Homo sapiens: one gene and its partner. The protein of the gene in region 2 purifies or fractionates together with the protein of the main gene of each other region. This does not show direct contact. Each region holds a gene or a part of one and is shown on either strand. Other genes may lie near its edges.

Region 1 (3,500 bases), on a different chromosome or scaffold from region 2:
GCTAGACTGTTCTTGAACTCCTGACCTCGTGATCCGCCTGCCTCAGCCTCCCAAAGTGCTCGGATTACAGGCGTGAGCCACTGCGCCCAGCCTAGAGGTGGCTTTTTTAAACCTTCATTGAGATATGCAGTTGACTCTTGAATAACATGAGTTTGAACTGCATGGGTCCATTTATATGGTGATTTTTTTTTTCAACCAAACTCGAATTGAAAATACAGTATTCCTGGGATGTGAAACTGTTGCATACTAAGGGCTTACTTTTTATATCACTGGGTTCCACAGGGCCATTGCAGGACTTATCTGAGTATGCTCAGATTTTGGTCTATGCAGGAGTCCTGGAACCAATGTCCCCAGTATAGCAAGGGACAACTGTATTTTACATGCCATAAAAACCACTAATTTTAGGCTGGGTGCGGTGGCTCATGCCTGTAATCACAGCACTTTGAGAGGCTGAGGCAGGTGGATCACCTGAGGTCTGGAGTTTGAGACCAGCCTGACCAACATGGATAAACCTGGTCTCTACTAAAAATACAAAAATTAGCCAGGTGTGGTGGCGCATGCCTGTAATCCCAGCTGCTTGGGAGGCTGAGGCAGGAGAATTGCTTGAACCCGGGAGGCGGAGGTTGTAGTGAGCAGAAATCACACCACTGCACTCCAGCCTGGGCAACAAGAATGAAACTCTGTCTCAAAAAGAAAAAAAAAAAAGAAAAAAACTTCTCATTTTAAGTATACAAGTCAATGATTTTTAGTAAATTTAAAGAGTTTTGCACCTATTACCACAATCTAATTTTAAAGCATTTACATCCTGTGTTCATTACTTTATAGTTTTAGCTGCTAAATTTAGGCCTATGATTCATTTTAAGTCAATTTTTGTATGGTGTGAGATAAGGGTAAGGGAAAGGTCTACATTCTTTTTTTTTTTTTTTTTGAGATGGAGTCTTGCTCTGTGGCCCAAGCTGGAGTGCAGTGGTGCGATCTCGGCTCACTGCAAGCTCCGCCTCTTTGGTTCATGCCATTCTCCTGCCTCAGCCTCCCAAGGAGCTGGGACTACAGGCGCCCGCCACCACGCCTGGCTAATTTTTTGTATTTTTAGTAGACACGTGGTTTCACCGTGTTAGCCAGGATGGTCTCGATCTCCTGACCTCGTGATCCGCCTATCTCGGCCTCTCAAAGTGCAGGGATTACAGATGTGAGACACCGCGCCCGGCCTACATTCATTATTTTGTATGTGGATATCCAATTGTTAAGAGTGCCATTTTTTTTTTTGTTTTTTTTTTTTTGAGACAGAGTCTCGCTCTGTCGCCCAGGCTGGAGTGCAGTGGCGCGATCTCCGCTCACTGAAAGCTCCGCCTCCCGGGTTCACACTATTCTCCTGCCTCAGCCTCCCAAGTAGCTGGGACTATAGGTGCCTGCCACCAGGCCTGGCTAGTTTTATTTTGTATTTTTTAGTAGAGACAGGGTTTCACTGTGTTTGCCAGGATGGTCTCCATCTCCTGACCTTGTGGTCCGTCCGCCTCGGCCTCCCAAGGTGCTGGGATTACAGGCGTGAGCCACTGCACCCGGCTAGAGTGCCATTTGTTGAAAGGCTATTCTTTTCCCATTGAATTACCTTGGCACTTTTGTCAAAAATCAGTTGAGCATAAATGTAAGGATTTATCTGGACTCAATTCTTTTCCATTTATCTATGTGTCTATTCTTAAACCAGTACCAAATTGCCTTTTGTTTACTGAAGATTTGTGGCGAGTTTTAAAATAGGGAAGACCTCTTTATTCTTCCTTTTCAAGACAGTTTTGGCTATTCTGGGCCCTTTGCATTTCCATGTGAATTTTAGGATCAGCGTATCAATTTTTGTAAAAAAGCAAGCTGGGATTTTACTAGCTATCATGAGTAGATATTATTGGTTATATATTAATATTAATGATAATTACAAGAAATTTGGGTGAATTGGTGAAATTTTAAAACTTCAAAGTTTCCTGGAAGTGACAGACTTGATAATTTAGGTTCCTGCAAGCATACAGTTTTGTTGACCTTTGAATTGATTTATTTTAAACTGAGAAATCATTTGGGAACTGGAAAATCAGATTTTTTTTTCCTGTTTGTGAATTAATAGAAAAACTAAGTAAGCTTTTTATTTCTCATACTGACCTAGTTGAACTAATCTATTATATTCACTTTTTATAAAGCATCCCTTTTCACACACATATTCTTGAAAATATTTTAAAATAGTTTTTATATGGTTGAAACAGAAATGTCCACAATGCATTTTTGTTTTATAATACTTATATAGATGTACAATAAGGTATTTTATTTATCTTTGTATCTCCAGAACTTTTTGAAGTGTTTTGATACTTCAAAAGTGTTAAATGGAAATGTCTTAATTTTTAAAATAAAAGTACAATCTTTAGGAAGCCTAGTTCCTATTATTCTTTTATTTTTATTTTATTTAATTTTATTTTTTTGAGACGGAGTCTCCCTCTGTCACCCATACTGCAGTGTAGTGGCGTGATCTCAGCTCACGGCAGCCTCCGCCTCTGGGTTCAAGTGATTCTCCTGCCTCAGCTTCCCGAGTAGCTGACCACCACTCCCTGCTAATTTTTGTATTTTTAGTAGAGACGGGGTTTCGCCATATTGGCCAGGCTGGTCCCGAACTCCTGACCTTAGGTGATCCGCCTGCCTTGGCCTCCTGCAGTGCTGAGATTACAGGTGTGAGCCACCATGCCCTGCCCTATTATTCTTTTCCGCAAAAGATATATTGTTAAAACCTTGATGCATATTTCCTTTATTATTTTGTTTCCTATGAAGTTATTTGTTAGGCAGTTTGTATTTTTCATTGTACAATTTTGAATTACTTTAGTCTGTTTTACCCTTAAGAGAACAGTGTTGCCGGGCATGGTGGCTCACGTCTGTAAGTCTGTAATCCCAGTGCTTTGGGAGGCCGAGGTGGGTGGGATCACCTGAGGTCGGGAGTTGGAGACCAGCCTGGCCAACATGTTCTCTACTAAAAAATACAAAATTAGCCAGGCGTGGTGGCGGGCACCTGTAGTCCCAGTTACTAGGGAGGCTGAGGTAGGAGAATTGCTTGAACCTGGGAGGTGGAGGTTGGTGTGAGCTGAGATTGCACCACTGTGCTCCAGCTTGGGTGACAGAATGAGATTACGTCTCCAAAAAAAAAAAAAAAAAAAGCCTGGGTAACAGAGCAAGACTCTGTCTCCAAAAAAAAAAAGAACAGTGTCATTATTTTCAAAAGTCTCTTATAATCTACTCTGTATAGTTTTCTAGTATTCATTCATTAGCTCTCATCTAATGTGGTATATACAGGGTTTTTTTTTTTTTTTTTTTTTTTTTTTGAGTTGGAGTCTTGTACTGTTGTCTGGGCTGAAGTGCAATAGTGCGATCTTGGCTCACTGCAACCTCCGCCTCCCGGGTTCAAGGGATTCTCCTGTCTCAGCCTCACTGGGATTACAGGCGCCTGCCACCACCCCTGGCTAATTTTTTGTATT
Region 2 (4,082 bases):
CACAAAATCTTACTTAATATGTTAATAAAGAAGCACATATATTACTATTCTACTCATAAATGTTTTTTTATTTGGTAATTATGTATTTCAATATAATTGGCTGTTTTTGTAATCTTATATATTTTATTTTATGCATTTAAAAACTTTATGCCAAGAAAGGGGCCAGAGACCTCAGCTGACTGCCAAAAGCCAAAGGTGTCTGTGACATTAAAAAAAGTTAAGCACTCCTAGCTCAGTTCTCATTTTTGATATTTGTTAACTGATCACATGGATTTAAAGAAATTGAATACTAGGTGTAGATCGAGGTATACATTCAATGTGAAATCCTTCAAACTCTTGGAATTATTGTATGCACCACTCTTGGAGATAAGTATCCATTTCATTAAATGGAAGAATAATACAAAGTCCATAAAAATAGTTAATGTGTTACTATCATTTCACATAGTAGTAGCAATAATATTACATATAGTTTTAAATCTTCTACTATGTCCCTGCCGATTTTGATTGTTAAAATCACCCTCAAGATAATACTGTTACTTCTGTATTCTCATTTAATTGTCACATCTTTAAAGGGAACAAGCAGACCAGATTACATCCATGTTCCAGATGAGAAAACTGAGGTTCAGGAAAGCTGGAGGCCCCACAGTTGATCAGTGTAAAAAAAAAAAAAAAAAAAATATTTTAATCTCCACTTAACAAATGAGAAAACAATCTCTGAGAGATTAGGGAGGTTGCAGTAAGTGTCAGGGCTTGGATTTACATCTCATTTGGCCGGATTCAAAAACCTTGTGTATTTTGCACTGTGTCACGCGGCCTGCCTCACAACTCCTTTCTACAGATTATAAAGCTAAAGGATTGCTAGAAATGACACCCTGGTGTGCCTCTCCCCACCCCAAGAAAATTGTACTCAGTTGAATCACAGGGTGTACCCCAGGGAGAGGAAGATAACGCATTTCCAAAACTTTAGCACAGCTCAGTCCACTCGACAGCCCCAAGAGAGGGGGCGTGTCTTTGGGATATTAGCACTGCTTTCTCCTTCAGGCCCTGCCCACCTAGTCACTGGTGAGTCCAAAGCCTTCCCCCTCGCTCTGTCGAATCTCACGTACACAGCCCTTCCCAGATCGGGATGTGTGTTCTGAATCAAGTAATTCGCTATGGCATGCAAATCATTATATCATATAGATGTGTTTTTCAAAATCTGATTAATGGTCAGTGCTTGTATATCTTATTTCCCATTTATGGGAGGTAAACTTTATTCACCTGTGTGATTTTGAGAGGCAGAGAAGCATTTTCTCCTCACTTTTCATTCTTTTTGCTTTCTAATTTGCTATTAAGCTGTTGCATATCACAAACTAAGAGCATGATTGCTAATTCCATTAGAAGAGCAGATAGTAGTGGGAATCCTTGACCTCTTAAAAAGTGCCAGGCTTTCTGGGCACGGTGGCTCATGCCTGTTCCGAGCACTTTGGGAGGCCAAGGCGGGTGGATCACCTGAGGTCAGGAGTTCGAGGCCAGCCTGGCCAACATGGTGAAACCCTGTCTCTACTAAAAATACAAAAATTAGCTGGACATGTTGGCACGCGCCTGTAATCCCAGCCACTTGGGAGGCTGAGGCAGGAGAATCGCTTGAACCAGGGGTTGGGGGAGTGGGGAGGAGGTTGCAGTGAGCCAAGATCTCACCATTGTACTCCAGCTGGGCAACAAGAGCGAAACTTCGTCTCAAAAAAAAGTTCCAGGCTTTGGAGGGCTTGGGAAATTGTCCACGGAGTGTCCTCAAACTGCGAGCCCTCGTATGGTAGTACAGGCTCATCCTAACTACCCTACTTTTTTCTGGAAGCTGTCATTTTGGTCATTGTGGTAATACCATATTTAATCTGTTTCAACTCCAGCGAGATTTATAGTCTCTGATGTTGCTTTTGATTCTTCTCATGTGTTGCCTGCTTATTTGCAAACTGGTCTTCTTAATCCATGCTTAAACTCTGCATATCAATTAGTCTTTCTTTAACTATAATAATGAAACTGTCACAAACTCATGCATATTTAAACCTATTTTTTAAACTCATTTGCTTATCAGATCTATTTTAAGAGCATGGTCATATTCAGTTTTGCCTTCTGTCCCAAATCCTCACTCTCCTGTAACAGTCTCCATTTAAATGTTTACAAAGGATTTGTCCTTTTATATATTTTGCACATTATTTTGGTACTCCAGAGATAAAACCTAAAAGCAACAATACACTCTGCAAATTTGGTTTCACTTCCAAACAATATGATTGCCTCCCCCACCTCACACACACCAAAAAAGCTTTATCCCAGTCAACTTTCTTAAATATCTAGGCAAATATTATTGAACTATTAATACTTTCACTTGAAATGTATTACAAGGTATTAAATGTATTGTGTGTTACCTTATATAACACTGTAGTCTCCTTTAATTAACAGGTAGAGAGTTAACAGTAAAGTTAAATGTTGAACATCTGCAAGAAGAAGAGTTGAATTTACAGTTTTCTTTGTCATAGTGGCTTAAGAAAGATTTGAGAGAACAACGGAAGTATAATACTTTCCTTCCTCTCTTTTGTCTTTTCAGGCACTTCCACAACTTACAGAATCTTAGTTTGGCTTATTGCAGACGGTTCACAGACAAAGGCTTACAGTACCTGAACTTGGGGAATGGATGCCACAAGCTCATCTATCTGGACCTCTCTGGCTGCACCCAGGTTTGTCTTTCAGTCTTCTCTTTGCTGCGGTGTGTGAGGAAGTTCTCCAGAGAATGGGCTGCATTCAGCCCTCACGTTATACTAATGCTGTGCACGGACCGCAGCACACTTTTCAGAGGTTTTAAATTACATGGCCCCAGCTGCTGAAATTTTCCCCAGGATCGCTATTATAGGCTCTTGGCTTCCTTCCACTGGAGTGTCACACAGACAAACAGGCAGAGCTCATTGGATGAGGAAACGGACCACTTTTGTGGAGACAGTCTGAGCACAAGTCTAAAGCAGAGTCCAAGTCCTGAAAACTCTGGAGTTGCTACCAAGACACAAACAAAGAGAATGTTTTGAGGGAGAATTTTGCATGGGATTCCTGAAAAGTCAATTAACTCCCACATGGGTTTTTTTTTGGGGGGGGGGGGGTAAAATGCTATAAGTGATAAATAGGAAAAGAAAATACAACAAAAACTCATAATTTAAAAAATTGCATTACACCGTTGGGCTGAATAACATGAAGATTTGAGATCTGCGTGGGAAAATATTTTAAGTTTGAGGGAACAGGACTTGGAAAGTTGGGCAGAAAATTGGATCAAGTTGCAGAGGATAGGGCATGGCGCTTTGGATGTAGCTACTGCCTCATTGATAGTTTCTTCTGCTTTAATTTCAAAAGATTTAAGCCATAATTCTTTTAACTTATTTTCTTCTGCCTCTCTGTGTATTTTATTAATTTGGTGTCATAGTATGTTCATTATTCTATGAGAATAATAGCATAGGTGAGAACTGGCTGAAATATTGATAGTTATCATTTCTTGAGTCATTACCATATGCCAAGCATTGTGTTGAGTGCTATACACAGATCAGATTTACTTCTGATACAGTGCTGTGGTGGTATGTATTTACTATGCTTATTTACAAATGAAGAGACCAAGGCTCAGGGTGGTTGAATAAGTTGCCCAAGTTTGCACAGCTGATGAAAGCACATGGTACTAGTACAGTTTTAAGCATCTGTTGCTAGATACTGGGGCAGGCAGAGTTCCCTGGGATAGTGGGAAATACAGGGGCAGCATGGGTTTCTCCCCCAGGGTTCTTGAATGGATAGAATTCTTACCTAGTCACCTCCACTGACATCTTGTGGTATCCTGATGCCCTGGGTGGTCTGGAGGGAGTTGGGGCAAGGAGGGGAGGATTCTAAGTTAGGGCTGTAAACATCTAACATTCATATTTGTTTAAAACTGATCTGCTGATGTGTAGCTTTTTAAACATCAACATCTACCATAACTTTATGACTGAGATGGCATTGACGTTCTCCTCAGCATGACTGAATTTTAGACCAGCTTCTTACTGACTCTAGGCCCTGACTTCTTGTTTTCTTGTTTC

The links. The genes of interacting proteins can lie anywhere in the genome.
Region 1: the proteins of LRRC17 (region 2) and LRBA purify together in Homo sapiens (affinity purification with mass spectrometry; one large-scale study listed by BioGRID and IntAct). This does not show direct contact.

What each region holds. Positions count from the first base shown.
Region 1 is NC_000004.12:151,005,285-151,008,784, reverse strand, and holds part of LRBA (lipopolysaccharide-responsive and beige-like anchor protein), read left to right. Parts: intron 1-3,500. UniProt on the Homo sapiens protein: Involved in coupling signal transduction and vesicle trafficking to enable polarized secretion and/or membrane deposition of immune effector molecules. Involved in phagophore growth during mitophagy by regulating ATG9A trafficking to mitochondria.
Region 2 is NC_000007.14:102,911,718-102,915,799, reverse strand, and holds the start of LRRC17 (leucine-rich repeat-containing protein 17 isoform 1 precursor), read right to left. Parts: upstream 2,801-4,082; 5' UTR 2,715-2,800; coding exon of another isoform or gene 2,585-2,714; exon of another isoform or gene 2,406-2,584; intron 1-2,405. Other genes in the region: FBXL13 (F-box and leucine-rich repeat protein 13), read left to right, coding at 2,585-2,714. UniProt on the Homo sapiens protein: Involved in bone homeostasis. Acts as a negative regulator of RANKL-induced osteoclast precursor differentiation from bone marrow precursors.